Regions from separate parts of the Homo sapiens genome. Here regions 1 and 2 are each linked to region 3. The links come from fine-mapping of genetic effects on gene expression. A gene starts in region 3. Each other region holds a variant in brackets. All regions are shown on one strand. Distances are from middle to middle.

Region 1 (8,191 bases), 140 kb before region 3:
TGAGGGAAGAGCTTTGTTCCTTAACCCACTCCAGGCTCCTGAGTAGCGTGCACCACCACATCCAGCTAAAATATATACTTTTACAATTGTCTTTCTAAAAACCAAATCAATATTTGCTATAACCTGACCTTCATCTTATCTATGACGCCTTATCTTATATAGCTTATCGTATATAGCCTTATCTGCTGCTTGAAGTAGACTTATTAAAACTAGTCACTTGAACAATAGTTAAAATTGTATGATAATTGTGGCGATGTGTAATTGCTTTCGGAAACTCTGTTTAGGAAAAAACAAATACACCACAAAAAGTTTCCTAAAGTGTCCTTAACAATTATCAATTTCCTTAACAAATATAATCCCTACTTATAATGCTGTGCTACACAGGAAATAATAAGATTCTTTCTAGATATGTATCCCATATTCTAAGGACCTATTAATCTGACTCAGACCCAAAATGTCTATTAAAAAATGTATTGTGACATGTGTGGGTAAATTATTTGACTTTTTATTTCAGATTGAGAGGAGTAACTGAATTAAATCATTAGATCAAAATACTTCAAATTTGTTTACACTAGTATTAAGGTGACAAGTTAGAACAAGAAAATGCAAAAATGAGTTCCATTTAAACATTTAATTGAGAAGGAAATGTAAATTATTTGTTCTTTAAAACAAAGTTCCAAAATGACAAAACCATGCAGTAGAAAAAAAATTGTAGGATTTTGTTAATCACATAAATTTTTAGTAATTTATACTGTTATCTAATGACAGTATTTTTCTCTCATACTGTCTCAGTCTGAATTAGTTTTAGCACTTACTCAAAACTAAACAAGGATAAACTTGGACACAAAATATATTTAGAAATATATTTACTGATATGTGTACAGCCACCCCATATATTCTTAAATTTAGGGAGATCTGAACACTGAATAATCATTATTTGAAAAGCATCTACATAAACAACATTCCACATATGACAGATATTTGGTAGGCTAATAATTAAGATACTTTTTCTTAGATTAGCAATGCAGGTTAAAAATCATAGCAGGATCCCTAAAGGTAAGTTTATCCATTTTCACTTACTATCCTGAAATTTAATTTAGATTGGAAAAAAAATTGCACTGAATGTAAACTTTGGGGTATATTTATTTTTTACTCAAATATTTCTTCCTATTTCCCTGTGAATATTGGGCATTATGTAAAATCCACTTGTTACAAATATTGCTAATATTTTAATATAAACAGGGTTTACAAGATCAAATGATATTTATTTTAATACCTACTATTGAGGAGATAATCCTCTTTTAACCTACTTGATTCATTTATTGGAATTTCTTTATTTTTTTGAGACAGAGTCTCACTCTGTCACCCAGGCTGGAGTGCAGTGGCGTGATCTCGGCTCACTGCAACCTCCACCTCTTGGGTTCAATCGATTCTCCTGCCTCAGCCTCCCGAGTAGCTGGGATTACAGGTGCACATCACCTGTATTGTATTTTTGGTAGAGACAGGGTTTTACCATGTTGGCCAGGCTGGTCTCGAACTCCTCAGGTGATCCACCAGCCTTGGCCTCCCAAAGTGCTGGGATTACAGACATGAGCCACCGTGTCCAGCCTATTTATTGGAATTTCTTAGAATCATCAGATTTAGTATCAGTAGACCCACTGATAATATCACGGATAGTAACTTCCTAATTCATTAATTTCCATATACAATCAAACCAATTCCTGCATTATAAAGAAACCAAAGCTGTACTAGTTTTAAAAAATATGTCAGTGCTACACTAGGGGTGTAACTCCTTATAAAGCAAGCATGAATGTGGCATCAAACTTACTTTTCCAAAGAAGCCTTTGAAGAACTTCCTTTCCTGGAGGAACAGGGGGACAAGTCGAGTGCTATTATTGTATGGCCTAAATGTCCCAGAGTTTCACACCAATAAGCACATACAGAAATTGGGGAAAGGAAAAAGTGGGAGAAGGGGTGGGAGTGAGTTTCAAAGAGTTATCCACACCAGGAGTGACAGGGAAAAAGGAAGGGTGCATGAAAATGCAGGGAAACACACTGTATAGCCTAAGAATCCATAGAAAGAGTAAGAAGAAATCAGAACCTGTATCCATGCAGAGCAACCAGTTAGTTTAGTAATCGCTATTTACATTTAAAACAGAGATCTTCCAAATTTGGCAGCAGAGAAAACAATAGGGCATACTGGTTTGGTGAGATTTGCATTTTAAATTTTATAATAGTGAATAGAAAATAGAAGACTGGTTCCATATACATTTTTTAAGTTTAAAATTGGCGGTCAACTATGTGAAAGTCACCAATTTTAAAAAAGTCCACATTCAAATGACCACATAATCACATTAAAAATGTAATACGTAAAATTAAATGAGTATGCATCAAAGGTCCTTGTCATACTTTTTTCTTAGTGAGTTCAAGATGTCACTTAGAAACTCCATACCACTTAAGGGGAGCTTGACCATTGGCTTTCCATTTACTTACATTAGTATCAATCTATATGTACAGGTGTGCTGATCAATTTCACAACACACATAAGGAAATAACATGTATGTTTTATTCCAGACACAGAATAAATTATCTATTAAGGTTACAAGGCTAATGTTTATACAAGAGCTGAGAAAACAAGTATCCTAAGAACCAAATGATGTCTGTGGGCCACAACTGAAATTTAAGAAACAGGGTTTTGTTTTCTTTATAAAAGCTATTGCTTATTATTATTTGGTTTTTGTTTGTTTGTTTGTTTGTTGAGTCAGAGTCTCACTCTGTCACTCAGGATGGAGTGCAGTGGCACGATCTCAGGTCACTGCAACCTCTGCCTCCTGGGTTCAAGCAATGCTCATGCCTCGGCCTCCCGAGTAGCTAGGACTACAGGTGTGCGCCACCACATCCAGCTAATTTTTGTATTTTTAGTAGAGACAGGGTTTCACCGTGTTGGCCAGGCTGGTCTCGAACTCCTGACCTCAAGTGATCCACCTGCCTAAGCCTCCTAAAGTGCTGGAATTACAGACATGGGCCACTGCGCCCAACCTAAAAGCTGTTATTTTAAAATAAAGAAACTTGCATTGACATTTATAAG[G/T]AAACAATTCTGAAACTATCTGGATAACAGAGGCATAACTATCTATGCTATCAGCACCAATTTTTAAGCACCATTTATGAAAACTGGCCACCAATTAAAATCTGTAGAATTTACACAAATTAGATGGGTTTGAACTCACACAAGCTAGATTTAACTTTACATTTCCTAGCTGTGGTTGAAATATACTTTAAGCCTTTACTTTTTATAATCATAGGTTTTTAATGTTGGATAAATGTCTAGGAAAAGATAATTGCATTGAAATCTGACTCTTTTACACAATTCATAAACTATTCAGTGCTCTCCAACACTGGAAAGTTTGTTTTCCCCTCTAAGCTTTGAAAATCACAAACAGCAAAAAATATTTCCACAAAACATTTTGAACTGCAACTGGAAAAATAATAAAGTAATTGGGTAGTTATCACAGTAAGACTAGATTATTTCTGCTGCCAAGTTTGGTGACCCTAGTTTTGTTAGACTATGAATAACCATAAGCTTTCAAGGATGCGGCCAAAGTTAAGATATTCACCATTCTTGAGGGATGGGAAGGTGAAGGAAGGAGATTGTTAATATTTAATTTAGCTCCTAGAAAAGCTACTGTTAAACATTGAGCTTTCCCTCTTTTTATAAAATACCCAAGATGTTAATGAAAAAAGTTGGCATGCAAAATGCATAAAAAGACAGTTATTAAAGAATAATAATGTTCTTTTAAAAACATTTGTTATGATTCTTTTACCTGCTAAAACAAGAACATATATTAAAACAAATATATCAAATAGTGAATAAAAAACCAACATATTAGAAACTGGTAGTATAATGAAACTAGTCTAAAACTAAGACAGAGGGAGAGACATTTAAGAAACAATGGGAAGAAATGACCTTAAACGAAGGGCATCTTGGACTAGAGTTAAGCAAGATAACCAAAGGCCTTATACACTTTTTTATGGAATTGGCTGATATATGACAATATTCCTCACCCTGTAGCTGATATGCCATAAAGGCAGTAACAATGGGCAATAGTGATTTCTGTCATTTATCCTATAGAAGCTAAGTCCCAAAGTAGCTAATCAGTGAGGTTATATGACAAAGTAAATGAGTTGAAAATAGCTGTCAATAACTTTATGCCCAGAAAGTTAAAAAATTAACATATTTATGCTCTGAGGAGCATATTTTTAAAACACTATCTTGTTTAGTTATAATATTTTTTTCATTTGAGCATATCAAGTATGCAGATGACTTCCAATTGAAGTTAATGTAATTCTAAATTGTAAGAGAGTATTTTGGTGAAAAACACTTGCAAATTATCTCTTTCCTCAATTGTTCACAAATTTAAAAAGCGCTAGAAGGCTGGGCGCAGTGGCTCATGCCTGTAATCCCAGCACTTTGGGAGGCCCAGGCTGGTGGATCACCTAAGGTCAGGAGTTGGAGATCAGCCTGGCCAACATGGTGAAACCCCGTCTCATACAATTAGCTGAGTGTGGTGGTGGGCGCCTGTAATCCCAGCTACTCTGGAGGCTGAGGCAGGAGAATCGCGTGAACCCGGGAGGCGGAGGTTGCAGCGACCCAAGATCGTGCCACTGCACTCCAGCCTGGGTGACAGAGCGAAACTCCACTCCAAAAAAAATGAATAAATAAAAAGCACCAGAAATATTACATTTTTAGTTCAAAGATTATTCACTAGATGTGTTGGTGGTACAGTGATGAGCATAGCTGCCTTCCAAAGATCATTCACATGGTAGGTTTAAAATGCTTGTTTTGTTACTTAACTGGTACATCTGAGCTATTCTTTAAAATTTTAAACTCTGGCATTCAAACTAATTTCAAAGATATCCTATTTCTTCTTTAATCCTCTGCAGGCTTATGCATCCTTATATTTGCTCCCACTTATTTGAAACTCTAAAAGGAAGCTTTATAATCTATAAAAAAAACAAACAAAAAGTCTCCAGAAACATAGCATTTGGCACAATATAAGTATCTGGCAAAGTAGGTTGTAGATCCCCAGTGGATGATTTTTAGATGAATGTTTGCTCAGAGAAATCAAAAGGCAACGAGAAATTTCTGCATAGTAAAAATATGAAAAGAAGACAAAAATCAGGAATACATGTGGCACACTATGATATGAGAAGAACAGTATCCTAAAGACTTCCGATTTTCTGCAAGATTCTCAGTATAGCTCTAGAAAGAGTATTTAAAAGAAAGGGGAGGCCAGGTGCAGCAGCTCATGCCTGTAATCCCAGCACTTTGGGAGACTGAGGTGGGTGGATCACGAGGTCATGAATTCAAGACCACCCTGGCCAACACGGTGAAACTCTGTCTCTACTAAAAATACAAAAAAACTAGCCAGGTGTGGTGGCGGGCACCTGTAATCCCAGCTACTCGGGAGGCTGAGGCAGGAGAATTGCTTGAACCTGGGAGGCAGAGGTTGCAGTGAGCCAAGATCACACCACTGCACTCCAACCTGGGTGACAGAGCAAGACTCCGACTCGGCGGGGGGGCAAAAAAAGAATGGGGATGTTTCACTGAGCATAAGAAACAGGAAATTTACTCCAGTGACCCAAAACTTCAATTTCATGTTTTAATAATACATGCCAGTGCAAAACTACATATAACATTTGCTCCAAATCTAGTTTTTGTCTGAAAAATTTTAAATAACTTCTTGATAAGAAGTCTAGAAATGGTCAATTTCCCCTCAAAGTTTAAAAGTTTAAGTATGTTTAGAAAACAATCACCAACATATCTAAAACTTTCTTTTTTATTATTTATTTTTATAGAGACAGGGTCTCACTATGTTACCCAGGCTGGTCTTGAACTCCTGGCTTTAAGCAATCCTCCCATCTCAGACTTCTAAGTAGCTGAGATTATAGGCGCAAGCTACTGTGTTCGGCTTAAAACTTTCTTTTAGTCATTAAAAACCACAGGAAAATAAAGATCTTTAGAAATAAACAAAACAGTTTTGGTAAACTTAAAACATTAGACATAATATTTGATTATGGTTATTGTAAGACTCAATTTGACCACATATTGTAGATCAGATTGTATTCTGTATATTCATTCTAGAAGTATTTTTTGAGTTACTACTATGTGCCAGCCACTGTTCCATGCATAGGTATAATTTTTAAAATGGCTATTTAGTTCCTAATTCTGATGAATATAAAAACATTAAATTTTATTATCTAAATAGTCCTATGCCTCAAGCAATCACGCCTATTATCTTCTTGGTTTAAAAAAAAAAAAGGTAAAATAAAACAAAAAAATCTACTGAAACATTAGTTTTAAAACTAGATAGTTAAATAGTGGCTATCTCTGGGGTTGTAGGAAATTTCATTTTATTTGTGTACTTTTTTGGTTCATTTGTATTTTATACAATAAACATATTGCTTATATAATAACGAGATATTTCTAATTAAAAGTATTTCAAAAAAAAACAAAGCTAGACAGGTAAGAGGATTAACTGCTCATTAAACAACAAAATACCGTTTCTCAATATGTTCTGGGCAAACTTAAACCACCTCTAGCTTTTCCTTACTTACAGAGTGCACATGAAGTCATACTCTGAATCAAAAGACTTTCTAAAGGCTCATTCCACAGTGGCCATTTCACCATAAGTTGTGTAAATTATAAGATTTTAATAATTATTTATAGTTTGTTTCAGGGCTATCTAGTCTGTTCACTGTTTTCAGTCATTAGTATAAAATATTATTTAATGGGCAAATAACTGCATTACTTTAAAAAAATGTTCTTAGCTAAAATCATCTTGTTTGTGTATTTATTTAGTTGAGACAAGGGCTCGCTGTGTTGCCCAGGTTGGTCTCAAACTCCTAGACTCAAGCAATCCTCCTACCTCAGCCTCCCGAGTAACTGATATTTTGTTTATTATTATTCTAGATAAACCCGGAATTATTTTGTTAAAGAAAATTAAATTTTTACTTCTCTTTTAAATTTGGTTTTGACAAAATGGAAAATTAAATTATCTGAGACTATGTTCAACTGGGGAATATATTTAGGTTGGCATGGAAGGTCTACAAACTATAATTTCATGTACCATAACACAAGGTCCCCTTAACGTAATGACAGATTGGGAGAGCACAGATAAGACTAGCAAAGGCTTGAATCATTTAAGAATTTTAATGATCAAAATCTGAGATAAAGAGTATGTATAGGTATCTATGTATGTATATATGTGTAGGTATGTCTGTATCTTTTTTTAAAATTTTTTAGTTCTTTGTATATTATAGCCAATTACTTTTCTCTTTTCCCTTCTATGACAGATTCAGGTATTTATCCCAAAATTAAATCTACCTCTCTGACTTGGTTGCTTTTTCTCTAAATTTTATATATTTTATATTCAGGAATTATAGATAAGAAGTAATATAGACTATGCCGAGAAGCACAAAAGTTCTGATTACTAAGCAAATTGAGGGAAAAAAGCACACATTAGTAGTCAAACTTGTGGCAGCCCACCATACCAGCAAACCCAAAGCAACATGTATTTAATGCTGTTGGGACCAGAGCATGCAGAAGTAATGCTTAAAGCTTTCACAGCAAAGTGGGGAAAGGCCACATATTAGAGAGAAGGAGGGTTGTGAAAAGGGCTATCAGATCTATGGAACATTCCTCAAACCTATGGAAAATCTGAAATTAACACTTTGAATCTTTATGAATTCCGAACTCGTTCTTTCCTTTCACTGAATACACAGGCATGTGCCTGGGATGTGTTCTATCGCATAACAGGCAGAGGAAACGTTATCCTGGGAAAGGGCTCTCTACTTCAAGTGTGCTAAAGTTTATGTAAAAGGCAGTAGAAATAGACTGTTTATGTTAGAGGTGTATAGAGAAGAAAATTGGGGAGTAGGAGTCAAGGTAATAGTAAGAAGTCTCCAAAAAGGAAACCTCACCAGGCATCAACACAGACCTCTATCCTCTAGTTTTCCCCAGGAAGCTATTTTTTACAGTATATTTAAAACCCCTAATTTATAGCCCAGTTATCACAGTTAGGGTAAGATGTTAACTGTAACAGTTTAATCCTAGTCTTAGAATACTATTCTTCTATCAGATTTCACAACATTTGTTTCATATGGGTTATAAATCAAAAGTACCTTTAGGATA
Region 2 (8,169 bases), 470 kb before region 3:
TACCACCTGATCCATATACTTATTAGCAGGTTCAAAAATTCCAAACCTCACATCATTCCACAGTTTCTTGGGTTCTCCTCCTCCTGAGATCCCAAAGCTAGAAGAGAAAGGCAGGGAAGGGCCCACCTACCCCAAGAAAGCTTGGGAAAGCATTTGAGGCAAGTCTGGAAAAGGTTGCCTGGAGACCAGATGATCTTGAACTTTAGTTGCCTTGACAACAGTGTGGCTCTTTCTATTGTATCTATAGGGCTGGCCCCAGTCATCAAGGGCTAGCAATGAATTTCCTGACTCAAAAGGGACACACTTCTGTCATCAGTGACATCACACCCCAACAAAACATAACTTTATAAATACTTCATAAATGCTTCCCGATGTGACAGAATTGGAACGTCAAGAGTTTCTACATTTAGAGCTCAGAGGTTAAAGAAGGTACATAAAGGCTGGGCACAGTGGATCACTCCTGGTAATCCCATCACTTTGGGAGGCCAAGGCAGACAGATACCTCAAGCTCAGGAGTTCAAGACCAGCCTGGGCAACAGGCAAAAACCCTGTCTCTACAAAAAATACAAAAATTAGCCAGGTGTGGTGGCGTGTGCCTGTTAGTCCTAGCTACTTGAGAGGCTGCGGTGGGATGATGGCTTGGGCCCAGGAGGCAGAGGTTGCAATGAGTCTAGATGGTGCCTAGGGGACACAGAGCCAGACCCTGTCTTAAAAAAAAAAATTAAGACAAAATTACATAAAACCTATACAAATTCAACTATGAAATGGTTCTCCCAACTATTCAGAACTGTAAGTACAGACAACCATAGTTAACTCAATATTCAATTCCAGTATTGAATATTAATTCCTCTATTCGATAGAGACCTGAGCATTTATTTCCTGCAAGCAGGTTTATCTGCTCAGTGCAGGTATGCGCTGCTTGTAGGTATCTGGGCTGTTGCTATTGTGGACCCTGAGCAAAGGAGTCAAGAAATGGGACATAAGCCAGCTAGAAAAAAAGGGGCCTGGGGCCTGCACAACAGTGTGGCTGAATGACATCAAAAGTGATCCTGTCAGCAGGAGGAATAGAGAAACCACTCCCAGGTATGTATGGGCAAGCCACTAGGGCAGAAAACAGCTGCATAGCTCTCTCTCTGTCTCTCTCTCACACACACACATATGTGCATGCATGTGTGCACACCAAAAACTGTTCTTCTCATTCATCACATTTCCAAATCCACATTTCCCGGTCAATAATAAACACAAAAAGTAGTACTTTGACTTCCTTTGAATCCAACAGAGTACTGCATCAATCAGGTGGAACTTCAAAAATAAGATAGGGCTAACAACATTTTTTTTTTTTTTTTTGAGACAGAGTCTTGCTCTGTCACCCAGGCTAGAGTGTAGTGGCACAATCTGAGCTCACTGCAACCTCCGTCTCCGGGGTTCAAGGGATTCTCCTGATTCAGCCTCCCGGGTAGCTGGGATTACAGGCACACACCATCACGGCTGGCTAATTTTTGTATTTTTCACAGAGATGGGGTTTTGCCGTGTTGGCCAGGCTGGTCTCGAACTCGTGACCTCAGGTGATCTGCCTGCTTCAGCCTCCCAAAGTGCTGGGATTACAGGCGTGAGCCACTGCACCTGGCCTAATAACTTTTTTTTTAAATATACTAATGGCATTTAAAATAGGCATTTCGGGCCTGGCACAGTGGCTCACACCTGTAATCCCAACATTTTGGGAGGCGGAGGTGGGCGGGTCACCTGAGGTCAGGAGTTCCAGGCCAGCCTGGCCAACATGGTGAAACCCCGTCTCTACTAAAAATACAAAAATTAGCTAGGCATGGTGGTGTGTGCCCGTAATCCAGGCTACTTGGGAGGCTGAGGCATGAGAATCACTTGAACCTGGGAGTCAGAGGTTTCAGTGAGCCAAGTTTGCATCACTGTACTCCAGCCTGAGTGACAGAGCAAGACTCTGTCTCAAAAAAAAAAAAAAAAAGTGAAAATAAACCAAATCATAGAATAATATAAATGGTATGATCTCATTTATGAAGGATATATATACATACACGCACATGCACTTTTACAGCATTTGCAATTTCTTCTTTTTTTTTTTTTTTTTTTTGAGACAGTCTTGCTGTGTCGCCCAGGACAGAGTACAATGGCGCAATCTCAGCAAACTGCAACCTCCACCTCCAGGGGTTCAAGCCATTCTGCCTCAGCATCCCAAGTAGCTGGGACTACAGGCACCCGCCACCACACCCAGCTAATTTTTGTATTTTTAATAGAGATGGGGTTTCACTATGTTGGCCAGGCTGCTCTTGAACTCCTGACCTCGTGATCTGCCTGTCTCAGCCTCCCAAAGTGCTGGGATTACAGGCATGAGCCACAGCACCCAGCCAGCATTTGCAATTTCTATAAGCATATATAATAAACTACTAATAATGGTTATCTGCAGAGTTAGAAAAGGACACTAGGCAGGGGAAAAGGATTTAACTTTACTATGATCCCATTTATTCAGGAAGAAAAACATACATTATAACATATATTTATGCATGTGCTTACACAGCAATAAAAATTTCTAGACACTTATGTGAGAAAGTATTAAGAGTTAGCTCTACAGACTGAGGAGGGGGGAGGTAGGGGAAGGAAAGGGGACTTAAGTCTCATACATTCTGCAGTACTTGAATTGTTTATCATGAATATGCATTGCTTTTATAATTTTTAAAATGACATCTCTGTTTTAATTAAAATAACCAAATACTCAAATATAACTGACAGTATGTATCAGGAACCTTTTAAAATGGTCCCATCCTCTGACCTCTTTAGAAGCGAAATAACTATTGGGAAGGAATACAGCATGAAGTTAAAAGCTCTTGGGGCCTGGTGCAGTGGCTGTGAGAGGCTGGAGTACAGTGAGCTGTGATCACACCACTGCACTCCAGCCTGGGCAACAGAGCAAGACCCTGTCTCAAAAGAAAAAAAAAGAAAAAGAAAAAAAGAAAGAAAAAATGGGAGATTCAAGAAATCAAACAAATTATTCTGACGTGTCATTTATCTGTTTATACCCACCCCAACTCTTTTATCTCAAAAGGACTCAAGGCTACTAATAAAAAAAAATTAATACAACAGCATAAAACAAAATAAAAACAAGTGGAGAAGAAAAGACAGCCATTTATATTATACACTGCTATGAACTATGAAAACTTTAGTTAGAGTCTATTTTAACAATAAAACTCTACTTGGTCAATTTGCCTAAGGCAGACCTTAAAAGTGGCTATTAGAGTGATAACCAGAGAATTAAGCATTTTTAATTTAAAGGATGTTTAAAACAAAAAAGTACAAAACCAATTTTTTCAAAGATTTGGGTAAACTGCAACAACTGCAAAATTCTCTAGGGAGAACCCAAATCACAAGCTTAAACAAATTGACTCCTTCCCATAGACAAAAGAATTCAGTCCCATAGCTCAGTATAACACAGCCCCTATACCTCAGAGAATAGAAAATATCAGATCTCGGTGAAATTTTGAGGATGCCAGTTACCAGGAATCATCAGAATTCCAGCTGAACAGGTT[CT/C]TTTTTTTTTTTTGAGATGGAGTTTCGCTCTTCTTGCCCAGGCTGGAGTGCGGTGGCAAGATCTCAGCTCACTGCAACCTCCGCCTCTCAAATTCAAGCAATTCTCCTGCCTCAGCCTCCTGAGTAGCTGGGATTACAGCCACGCACCACCACGCGCAGCTAATTTCGTATTTTTAGTAGAGACGTGGTTGCTCCATGTTGGTCAGGCTGGTCTCGAACTCCCAACCTCAGGTGATCCATCTGCCTCCTGAAGTGCTGGAATTAAGGGCGTGAGCCACCGCACCTGGCCTTTTTTTTTTTTTTTTTTTTTTTTTTGAGAGGGAGTCTAGGTCTGTTGCCTGGGCTAGAGTACAGTGGCGCACTGTACTCGGCCCACTGCAACCTCCACCTCCCAGGTTCAAGTGATTCTCCTGCCTCAGCCTCCCTAGTAGCTGGGATTACAAGAGTCTGCCACCACGCCCAGCTAATTTTTGTATTTTTAGTAGAGACAGGTTTCACCATGTTGGCCAGGCTGGCCTCGAACTCCTAGCCTCACGTGACCTGCCCACCTCCGCCTCTCAAAGTGCTGGGAATGATTACAGGCATGAGCCACCTCACCCGACAGACCAGGTTCATTTTAATCGCAGAAAGCTTGGTGACGCTTACCACCTCGGAAGAATACAGTCTAACTATTTTTCTCAAAGCCAGTAATAAATTGGCCTGAGGTAGGACATCCAAGACTTCTGAGGGGAAAAATCCCTGAGCACTAATTACAGTTTACAGTGCTCAGTGTCCCTGATGGTATTTTTTTTTTTTTTTTTTTTTTTTGAGACGGAGTCTCGCTCTGTTGCCCAGGCTGGAGTGCAGTGGCGCCATCTCGGCTCACTGCAAGCTCCGCCTCCCGGGTTCACGCCATTCTCCTGCCTCAGCCTCCCAAGTAGCTGGGACTACAGGTGCCCGCTACCACACCCGGCTAATTTTTTGTATTTTTAGTAGAGACGGGGTTTCACCGTGTTAGCCAGGATGGTCTCGATCTCCTGACCTCGTGATCCGCCCGCCTCGGCTTCCCAAAGTGCTGGGATTACAGGCGTGAGCCACCGCGCCCGGCCCCTGATGGTCTTACTTAAACATTAATCTGGGTTAGCTTCCAGAAGAGCAAAGGAGCTGCTATAATCCAGCCTCTGGCCTATTTGCCTTATAATGCACAGTGATCAGATTTACAGCCCCTTTGCCTGATTCAGCGTCTTTTCAGAATGTTTGCATTAGGTAAGCGTCATCTTCCGTTTTCACTGCCTTTGAGCCACTACAAGGACATTATTAGCCAATACAACTAAGTGCACTTGAACTTCAAATTCTAACTGGAAATGTATGTATTTCATGAATTATTCAAATGTAATCATTTTCAATAGTTTTTCCTTAATATTATTCACAATTAACATTCACTGAACATTTTTACTATATAACAAGTACTTTGTCTCTTAAGTATGCTTTCATTTAATCCCCACCTCTCTTTAAGAGGCCAAATCTCCCTCTTTTTTTTTTTTTGAGACAGCATCTCGCTCTGTCTCCCAGGCTGGAGTGCAGTGGGACAATCTCGGCTCACTGCAACGTCTGCCTCCCGGATTCAAGCAATTCTCCTGCCTCAGCCTCCCAAGTAGCTAGGATTACAGGAGTGCGCCACCATGCCCGGCTAATTTTTTTGTATTTTTAGTAGAAAGGGGGTTTCACCATGTTGGCCAGGCTAGTCTCAAACACCTGACCTCAAGTGATCCACCCGCCTCGGCCTCCCAAAGTGCTGGAATTACAGGCGTGAGCCACCACGCCTGGCTGTAAATCTCCCTCTTAAAGAAAGAAAAAACAGGACCCAGTCTCAGAACCTTCCATGCGTAATAGTCTCTAGCTAAGGAATAATAGGCGATTTTATTTGTTGAGAGGCAGTACAGGCTTTGTGGTTATGAGAAGGAGCTCTAGCGTAAACTGGCCAGGTGTTAGGCCTGCTGTCACTCACCAACTGTGTATAACCAATTACTACATCTCTTGGTGCCTCCGTTTCCTCATCTGTAAATGAGGATGTTAACAGTACTTAACTCATGGAGTTGGTGTAAGGATTAAGTGAACTAATCCATACAGAGTACTCTGAACTTTGGTATATAACAAATAGTAGTGTTATTGTGTATCTATTTTTGTGTTTTGTTTTGGTAATTTTCTACCTCTGGGGGGAGGTCCCATTCAGGTGCCCCCCCCGCCCCTTGCAAGAGAGAGAGAGCTGTTCTTTCTCTTTCTTTTGCCTATCAAACCTCTGCTCCTAAACGCCCCCCGAACAAAAAACAATTTCTACCTGTGATACTAGTTTTCCGCTTATAGTGATAACAAAAAGTTTCCTCTATGAATAAATTAATTTAAATAAGAAAAAAACAGTGAGTCAATGTTAAGAAAAGCATAAAGGCTGTCCAGATTAAGTGAGACTCAACATGACACCAACTCACCAGGGCTGAGCCACACCAGCCAGAAATGAGTGCCTGGTTTTTCTCCTAGCTGAGGACCGGGCACTTTTTTTACTATCACATATGACTTCCCCATATTTGCACTCCTGGCAAGATGAAAGCATCTGACAGGTGCGGACTCCATTCATGTGCTTCCGCTTCTTATAACCTCTTTCCACCCAGATTTCCAATCACCAGCACCACAAAAGCTGGCGAACTGAGTGTTCTCACCACCCACTGGCACCCCAATGAGAAGCCCTTGGGGCACAAGCCAACTGACCTTCAGGGCTTTGAAGATGACTCCCGGGTGCCGGGGAGAACGGGTGGTGTTATTCTCTAGTAGCTGCTCCAAAGCACGCCGAAGCCCAGAAAAGTCCGTGGGAGGGTTGTAAGTCCTCGTTCCCTTGTAGTGAATGGAACTAAAGGCTTCAGGGAAACGGCCCAGCTTCCGGAACCGGTCCTGGATGAGCTTCTCTGGCACCTCTGAGGGATGATCTATACAAGCAGAAACACAGGCACATGGGTAGTGAGTGACATTTAAAAAAAAAAAAAAAAGTAGGCCAGGCACGGTGGCCCACACCTGTAACCCTAGCACTTTGGGAGGCCAAGGTGGGTGGATCACCCGAGGTCAGGAGTTCAGCCTGGCCAACATGGTGAAACCCTGTCTCTACTAATAATACAAAAAAATTAGCAGGGCGTGGTGGCGCATGCCTGTAATCCCTACTAGTCCAGAGGCTGAGGCAGGAGAATCGCTTGAACCCAGGAGGCGAAGGTTGCAGTAAGCTGAAATCGCACCACTGCACTATAGCCTGGGAGACAAAAGTGACTCTATCTCAAACAACAACAACAAAAATCTTTCATTATAAAAGTAAGATACGAGGCTGGGTGCGGTGGCTCACACCTGTAATCCCAGCATTATGGGAGGCCGAGGCAGGTGGATCACCAGGTCAAGAGATGGAGACCATCCTGGCAACATGGTGAAATGCCATCTCTACTAAAAATACTAGCCAAGCGTGGTGGCAGGTGCCTGTAATCCCAGCTATTCAGGAGGCTGAGGCAGGAGAATCACTTGAACCTGGGAAGTGGAGGTTGCAGTGAGCCAAGATCGCGCCACTGCACTCCAGCCTGGCGACAGAGAGAGATTCCGTCTCAAAAAAAAAAAAAAAAAAGTAAGATACGGGAGGGTGCAGTGGTTCACACCTGTAATCCCAGCACTTTGGGAAGCTGAGGTGGGTGGATCACCTGAGGTCGGGAGTTCGAGACCAGCCTGGCCAACGTGGTAAAACCCCATCTCTACTAAAAATACAAAAATTAGTCGGGCCTAGTGGTGCACGCCTGTAATCCCAGCTACTCAGGATGCTGAGGCAGAAGAATTGCTTGAACCTGGGAGGCAGAGGTTGCAGTGAGCCGGGATCGCACCACTGCACTCCAGCCTGGGAGACAGAGCGAGACGCTGTCTCAAAAAAAAAAAAAAAAAAAAAAAAAAAGTAAGATACTCTGACTCAATGTACATGAAGTACATAAGCAGGCAGAGCTGATCTATGCTGTGAGAACTCAGGTTACCCTTTCCTGGTAAAGGACATGAGGAGGGCTTCTATGAGGAGGGCTGGTGTCCTATGGTCTAGCATTGAGTACGCAGGGGCATTCAGGCAGTGAAAACTCATCACATGATACCTTGATATGATACGCACTGTTCTGTATGCACATTACACTTCAAGGAGGAGTCTTTTTTCCCAAAAACCCATTCATTGGAAAAATCTAGATATGCCAAAGCATAAAAGGAAAGAAATTATGTCCTCTGCTCTCACCTACTTCCCGAAAGTAACCACAGCTCAATATTGGCCCTTTCAGACATTTTTCCTACAGACTTAGCAACATATATATGCAACTTGCTCTTTTCTCACTTAATAACATACTGTAAGTACCTGTCCTTGTCACAATACACTCAAAAGCAGCAATACAGTCTTCGATCCTGTGGATATACTTAACTAATCACCTTCCTGATGAACTTTTACAATTCTCTGTACTTTGAAAATTCTGGTCTTTTGTGAGGAAGCTCTGGGCAAACTACCAATGTATAAGGGTATTTGCTTGCCCACACTCTCATCATTTGTCCAGAAACTTGGGCAGCCATAGCACAGATGGATTCAAT
Region 3 (8,191 bases):
CCCCTTAAACAAATTTTCTTTGCCACTAAAGGATGCACTATAATGTCAAGATTAAAAAAATAAGATAGCAAAAAAATTTTTTTTTAATTTAAGGAGTATATTGTTTTATTTCTCCCCAGCCCTATCAGGAAAACATAAAATGAGGGAGGGAAAAAGTTGGGCGGGGGGGGAACGGTTGAAGAACTATTGGGTACTATGCTCACTACCTGGGTGACAGGACCAATCATACCTCAAACCTCAGCATCACACAATATACCCATATAACCAACCTGCATATGTACTCTCAGAATCTAAACTAAAAGTTGAATTTTTTTTTAAAAAAAAAGGAAAAAAATCAGAGTTCAGAAATCTGCAGAATTCAAGATCTATTCTCTAGAAATCAAAACCTGTTACACACAACAGATGTGTTTTGGCAAGTCCAAAGTAAAATGTAGCTTTTCAAGTACTCTATTATATAAAATACTTTTTTAAAGGTAATTAGTTTAGGAAGTTTCGAAGCAAACTAAAAAACTAGATATAGGGGTTTTATACTTTTAGAGAACTAGATTTTCAGTTACCCACATTTCTATTAGAATTTATTGTACAGCGAGTTGGAGAGCAGGAAGCAGAAAAGTAGATCAGAGACTTATAAAACAAGACAAGGCTTCTCTGAAATAGAAAATAAACCTAATTAACTAGTGTTAATTGAACTTCTACTTTTTAAAATCACTTACCTAAATAAAACTTCAGTATGTGAAACTGAGTCTCACTAAATAGCACAGTTAGGATTTTGGGATTTAAAAACCACCATTTATTCAACTACAGACAACCAAATCCCACTGTAAAATTATTTGGGCAATCAAAGCTATTCCTAGATAAGTATAATCAGATGAATAATAAGTCCACTTATTAAAACCAGGTAATCAAACTGCTCAATGTTCTCAATTATGAAGAATGAACTTTTCTATTTGTCATATAGGATTTCTCATTCTTCCATCATTTGGTGTAGAACTGAATGATCTATATAAATGTACCATGACTTCAACAACAACTCTAGTGCTAAGAATAATCCACTGAACTCAATGCAAGAAATCAAAAGCTTTCCTTCTCGAAACTTATGTCACAGAAAAAAAGCAGTAAATTTATTTTGTGAAAAGTCTGCATCTGCTTTAGAACTCAGATATGCAATGGTTATATGCCTTGCAGTCTTCCAAATGAAAATAAAAATTTTAAGGAAATATAATCTGAAATAAAACTAAAAATTATTTTTGAGAGAGAAAAAAATAAACCAAAAATCCTGATGCAAAGCTATACCAACAGTTTCTTCACAATTTCATAAAACATTAATGAAGAGGTTACATAATCCCCTGGATTAAAGATTTTAAAGAAAGCTGCAAGGATCTCTTTCAGTTTTCAATACTGCTTCCTGTTCTTAACAGCCATAAAAACAGATCTAAATCAACTCCTAAATATAAACCATCTAGCTTTCAATGGAAGAAAAATCAAACCACGTACAGATAAAACATACATATTCTTTTTAAAAACACGCTGTAAATTACATTTAGGTTCCTCAAACAAGTTAAGTTTACAACATGTACCACATCCAGTTTATTCTCAAGGGAGAAAACCATTAAACAAAAGCTCCCTCTTAATAAATGATTTACTTTGTAGTTAAGCCTCTATCCCAGGTGCATTTTGCTGTCACATATTACCACTATTTCTTTTCTCTACAAAGACCTAGAAACTGTATATCTAGTTCCTTTAAAAATATCTGTATATGTTTTATATTAGTGTAAGGATAAGAAATACTTAATATTTTTACTCTCTAAAAAGGAAATATCTTTTCATTTTTCTCTTTTGCAGTGTTTCTTACTTTGTTTTTGCTTATTTTCTATACATGAAATTTTCTCAAGTCAGTCCATTTCAGTGTTGTTTACTGTCAATATGTCTGTGTATACTCAGGCTTTTACAAACAATGCTTTACGGTACAGTGATAAAAAAGAAAGGGTGAACAAGAGGGCACAAGTGAAACAAAAGCGGACAACATCTGAGAAACACCATTCAATTTCTCTGCCTCAGATTCCCTTAAGTTCTCATGCCAAAGATTCTCAATATCCAAAAAAGTTCCAGAGTCAGAGGCATAACACAATATGTGACAAGACAAACACAGGAGGAACCAAATCAGAAACTGAAGAAATTTAATGGAATATAATACTCCCAAAAAAACCTTTTTTTTTTTTTTTAAGATGGAGTTTCACTCTTGTTGCCCAGACTGGAATGCAATGGCATGATCTCGGCTCACTGCAACCTCCACCTCCGGGGTTCAAGCAATTCTCCAGCCTCAGCCTTCCAAGTAGCTGGGATTACAGGCACGCGCCACCACGCCCAGCTAATTTTGTATTTTTTTTAAAGATGGGGGTCTCACCATGTTGGTCAGGCTGATCTTGAACTCCTGACCTCAAGTGATCCGCCCGCCTTGGCCTCCCAAAGTGCTGGGATTATAGGCGTGAGCCACCGCACCCAGCTTTCAGACTTTTTTAACTGTAAGAAATATATTTTATCCTTTGGCCAGGAACTCAAAAAAAGAAATACACTTTACATTGTGACCTAGTACATACATGTAGGAGAAAAGTTTCCCAAAACAATACTTTTCCTTACCAAATGCAATGTCAGTTTATTCTGTTCTACATTTTATTTTCAATGCAGGTAAAAACTCACAACATTGATTTTATAAATTACTAATAAATCACAATCCACAGTTTGAAAAACACAGGCTAAAAATGAGTATCCTTTATAATAGGATCTTTTAGGCAATTTGCCTCTACCTGTCTCTTTAGCAGGTATTTTAAAGTTGCTACCATTATTACCGGTTTCATTAAAGTAAGTGGTTCTTAAAGTGTGGTCCTCTGACCAACGTGATCATCATTTGAGATAAATATAAATTATTGGGCCCCACCCCAGACCTACTGAAACCCCCAGGTGGGGCCAAGCAATCTACATTTTACCAAGCCCTCCAGGTGATTTTGATGCAAGCTAACATCTGCGAGCCAGGTCTTTACCTTCTATTTAAGAAGTCAGGTCTTTATCGTCTATTGAACAATCCAGTACACACGACTATGTGCCAGTCACTATCCTAAAAGCTCTACAAATACCAACTCACATGAAAAAAAAAACACCACCACCACCTTATAAAGTAGGAACTATTACTATTAGTATTCTGATGAGGAAACTGCACAGAAACTTAGCTAAGTGGTGGAACTAGAACTCAAAACTTCTTTTCACTTTAGCCGAGTATGCCTACCCTCTTTCTGATAAGTATTTACTTCTACTCCTTTAGTTCAGCTACTCCTCCCCTTTTCCCTCCCAAATTCCCCACCCTGTCAATGAACCTATTTCCTAATATTACTGCCATCATCCTAAAACAAATTTCTTTTCTAAAACAAGTCACTTAACCTTGCTTTTAGGAGCTTTGCTTTGGTCCTAGATGTCATCTTGATATTAATTACGAAACTGAAGTTTCTTCTATTTGTGAAGACCTGTGAACCTACATGGCTCCACTGTTAATTTCTCATATATCTACTGTCCTAGCCAGTTCCACGAAACCATTACTCTCTCCTCGGGCAACTTTCTTTCTCTACCTTATCCCCTCCTATAGGGATTCTCTCCCACCTCCGCCCATCTCCGTCCCATTTTGCATGACTCCTCTCCGACCGAGGGAACTTCCACTCCCCTGCTGGCTCCTCACCCCGGTCTCAAACGCGAGCCACTCCTCGAGGACTTCTTTCCTGGTCCCTTAGGGATCCTCAGAGCCGGAGCGGCCAGGCCAGTTGGGTCTCCCATCCCAGCTCAGCTATGGGGGCGCAGGGAGCTCCGGTTCTTCCCCCAGGCGGTGCAAGATCTCTACTCGTCCGACCCTCCGAAGACCTGCTGCTCCTCATCTCTCCAGGAGCCCCCTCCCTTGGACAGCCGCTTTTCTCAGGAGGGTCCCCAACCCCCTCCGAGCGTTTCCTCAGACGCCCCTACTTGGAGCAAGTCTGCTCCCTGTCACCCGGGACCCTGGCCACCCTCGGCCTTCCTACCTCCCTCGGACCGGGGCCACTCCCAGTTCCCCTGCCCCCCACCCCGCTCTCTCCTCACCGGCCGCTGCCGGGCTTCCCGGATTCCTTTTCTCCCTGGCACCCAAGCCGTCCTGGGTATTCCCAAGACACCCCGCCCTTGAAGCAGGTCGTTACAGGTCACCCCCTCTCTGGGACCCTGGCCGCTTCCGTTTCCTCAGATACCTACTCCTCACACAGTGGCCGCCGGTCAGCGCGCTAGACCGGAGCAGCTGGACGTCCCAAGGGACCTCCTGGCCTGACCCGCGCGGGTCCGGCCGTAGCCTACCTTCCTCGGGAGAACTCCGCAGCCAGAAGCCCAGCCCCTCTCCCCCTAGCCCAGTCAGCGCGAACTCGCCGCCGCCCCCGCCGCCTCCGCCCTGGCCCCGGCCCCGGCCCGGGCCCCGACCCGAAGTCCAGGCCCCCTTCCTCCGGCCTCCGCCTCCGGAGTGCTGAGCTGGAGATTCCGCCCCGCGACGGCCCCCAGATCTCTGACCCGCGTTACCGGCACTCACCTGCCGCTGCCCCCGACCAACTCAAGCGCCACTGCCTCTACCTCGGCCGCCAGTGGCCACCAAGCGCCACCACCTCCCCCATGACAACAGGCCCACCCTCTTTCATACTTCTAACCTATCCATTGGATAGTGGGGCGGCAGCTCTCCTCTCTGATTGGTTTAGTATACCCGCCCGTCATCGCTCTTTACCGCCCCTTTTCCTAAACCCGGTATTCGCCCCCGCCCGGACCTGGAGCGTCCTAGCCCAAGCTTTAGTTGTAATTGGTTGAGGGTTGGGCAATTCGAAGTTATGATAGGCTGCTAAAAGTGTCTGTTAAGCTAACTGGCAAGAGACGTGACGGTTAAGGTTGATTCACGCTTGTGCACAGTTTGGTTGCGCAGTAGAAAGCAAAGGAGGGGCAGACGCTCACATTCGTGGTTACCCGGGAAGGGTTAAGTCTTTGTTGTAGAGTTTTCTCTGTAAACTTTTCCACTTCTCCAGCTCACTTCCTGCAAGGAGAAGCTTATCTCTGCTAGCTTTATTCATAGGGGTAGTACTTACAAAACACCAACATTAGAGGTTGTGTTTAAGAAGTGTTTCCAAGCCCTGGGGAGAAAGGTATCAGAGAGATAAAAATGTCCCCTTCTTTTCTTTGGTCTCAATGCATCCAATTTCATTGAAGTTCTTTCCAGGAGCCTCAATGCTAAAGGGCAAAGCGCAAACTTTCATTTAGCAGAAATCAGTCAACTTCGGTTGCAATTATAAATGTCGTCAATAAACTGAAGTGGCGTATTGAGAGTTCTCCAGCTTCCAGATCCACTCCTGGCTGACCCCTGCCAATTGACCAGACAGCCATTAGCAACTTTTTTTTTTTTTTTTTTTTTCTGTGAGACGGAGTTTCTCTCTTGTTGCCCAGGCTGGAGTGCAATGGTGCTATCTCGGCTCATCGCAACCTACGCCTCCCAGGTTCAAGCGATTCTTCTGCCTTAGCCTCCCGAGTAGCTGGGATTATAGGCATGAGACGGGGTTTCTCCATGTTGGTCAGGCTAGTCTCGAACTCCCAACCTCAGGTGATCCGCCCGCCTCGGCCTCCCAAAGTGCTGGTATTACAGGCGTAAGCCACCGCGCCCGGCCAGCAACTTTCTAATAAGCGGGCCACATTATACCCTTTATGATGCTCTGGAAATGAGAATTCTGCTTTCCCCCACCTCTCACTGCCACTTTGTTTTTCTGTTCAGCAGTTCTTAAATAGCCCTACTAGCTGTGTGTCAGATACTTTAAAAGCTTCTCTCTCTCTCTCTCTTTTTTTTTTCTAAACCTCTTCCTAGCAGTCTAAATTAGGGCCATTGAATGAATTGCCGGGTTGTGTGTGTGTGTGTTTTTTTTTTTTCCTCACTTGGCACAATGCACAAGAATAAATGATTGCATTTTTTATTCACTTGGGTACAAATCACAGTAGGCATTTTTGAGAAATCTAATGTTGCTATAAAAACTCTTGTGCTCCTAGAAATATATTCATCATTAGCTTTTTGTTTTTCCTTTTTTTTCACCCACTTTTCCTGCTCCTAAATAACAAAATGCTGGTCTGATTACTCTTTCAGTTTCTAAATCAGATTTAAATGTACTTTCTCACAACCCCACCTATGATACATATACCCATGGGCCATGAAACAACACCCAGGGATAGTTTAAGACACTGTCAGGCCGTGCGGTGGCTCATGCCTGTTATCCCAGCACTCTGGGAGGCCGAGCCGGGCAGATCACCTGAGGTCAGGAGTTTGAGACCAGCCTGACTAACATGGTGAAACCCCTGTCTCTGCAGATGGTGCCACTGCACTCCAGCCTGGGCAACAGAGTGAGACTCTGTCTTAAAAAAAAAAAAAAAAAAAGACACTGTCAAGGAGGCATTCACCTCAAGGATGTGGACTTTGGAAATGTGCTTTGTCTCTTTCTTCTTTCTGCTAACCCTTTGTCTCATATTTCTTCTATTTACTAACCTCCTTGTTCTTTGCAGAGCAAGCTACAAAGAGTCTAAAACTGTATGGTTTATTATTCAGAAAAATATTGTCTTTTTTCTAGCCTATATTTTTAGTCAAGTTTAAATAAAGTACATACTTCTATCACCAGACTAAGCAGAAATTATTCCTCCAGTAACTATACATAACAATAAAGTGCCTTTTCCTAGTTATTTTCCGGAACTTTCCTCCCCCTCCTCTCTTCCTCACCTTCCAATTTAGAAATAACCTCCCATTCAATTCAATGACTCACAAAAAGCCTGTGAAAGGAAAGTGGAAAAGCCAAAATAACTTAGAGATGTCTGAATCATTCAGCTGAAGGAAAGATCAGACATTGACCATGATAAGATAGACGCCAAGACATAAGGCAAGCCTGAGCTAACATCCCATAACATGTGAAGTAATGCAAATGTGAAGATGCCCCAAGAAAAAGCAAATACCAATATGTCCTTTTACACAGCCTTTTAATATATCACCAGCAGCTTGCTTCTCTCTAGTCTTGGCAGTGTGCCATGCTACCAATTTTAGAGCAAGTTAGAAGACAATTAATGTCCTGACAGATAGGAAACAATAACGTCATAGGAGGACATGACCATTATTATGGTACTTTGGGTAATAATGGCTCTTGCACAGCCATAGTGACTAGGTGCCATAGAAAACATAGAATTAGGCCAGCCTTGCTAAGAGGACTTGCCATCTAAGTTGAAGAATGCAGCGAAATTACTATCACAAAACTGGGTGGAAAATTGTCACAAAAGTCAGCCGCTATTTCATACACTAAAAAAAAAAAAAAAAAGAAAGCATGTATAAATGCTTTTGCTCATATACACACATCTATCATTCCTATTCTTTGTGAATATCAGTTAAGAAAGGACATATAAAATAAATATGTTACAACCCAGTAAGTAGTGGGAAAACCTTAAGGAAGGTTTCAAGGAACATGCCTTGAAATAACAGAAGGCTATTGTGTTATCAAAGACTGTGCAGTACCGGAGGGGTTATTGCTTGTATCCCTACATTTTGCTTTCACGTGCACAAGGTAACCCTATCATGTAATTACTCCATCCAGCTTTTTTCTTTTCTTTCCTGTGTTTTTTGCTTCTCTACCATTCTCAGGGCTCCCTCTCAGAAAACAAGAACACTGGAGTCTGGGAGTCTGCAGCTTCCTGTTGCATGGCTGGCTGTGGAGGTCCTGCAGATGGTATCTGTTCAGAGCCACTTGGGCACGACCAAGATGGCAGGTACATTCGGGGCAAAAATAGCATTTATAATCCCAATTAAGCAGAAAATAGAGGACTCAGAGTGATGTCCAATATCTGAGGAGTGATATAGTGTGCCTTGGGCTTTCCTGTACACTAATGCTGTTTCTCCTGCTCTTTCATAATGTCACTTTTCAAGGGAAAAGAATCCAAGTCTCTTTCCATTTCTATTTTAGCCCACAGGGGCAATCTCACTAGGGAAAGGATCCATTTTTTGCTTTTGGATTTTCTTCCTCTGGATTCTACACACGATTCCAATTCCAACTAGATTAGAGAAATAAACAACCGGTGGAGAAGAAAATCGCTCAGATAGCAGACAAGGGCCAGAACTGCCTGCCACTAGCAGTTG

What was found.
Region 1: its variant is fine-mapped to the expression of NUMB in whole blood (TOPMed, PIP above 0.99).
Region 2: its variant is fine-mapped to the expression of NUMB in whole blood (INTERVAL, PIP above 0.99).

What each region holds. Positions count from the first base shown.
Region 1 is chr14:73,314,562-73,322,752 of GRCh38, forward strand. NUMB (NUMB endocytic adaptor protein) reads right to left here. Exons shown (of 13, transcript NM_001005743.2): 6 at 1,829-1,861. Among named protein-coding and RNA genes, the nearest start is that of PAPLN-AS1, 73 kb to the left of the region's middle. The variant G/T (reference allele first, on the strand shown) is at 3,089.
Region 2 is chr14:72,986,846-72,995,014 of GRCh38, forward strand. It overlaps ZFYVE1 (zinc finger FYVE-type containing 1), which reads right to left. Exons shown (of 12, transcript NM_021260.4): 4 at 6,298-6,512. Among named protein-coding and RNA genes, the nearest start is that of TRC-GCA8-1, 28 kb to the left of the region's middle. The variant CT/C (reference allele first, on the strand shown) is at 3,555.
Region 3 is chr14:73,453,905-73,462,095 of GRCh38, forward strand. NUMB (NUMB endocytic adaptor protein) reads right to left here and starts at 4,642. Exons shown (of 13, transcript NM_001005743.2): 1 at 4,589-4,642. It overlaps LOC101928143 (a long non-coding RNA gene), which reads right to left. Exons shown (of 3, transcript NR_135251.1): 3 at 7,031-7,360. RefSeq lists silencers at 4,366-4,495, 4,506-4,595, 4,786-4,985 and enhancers at 4,971-5,504, 5,505-6,038.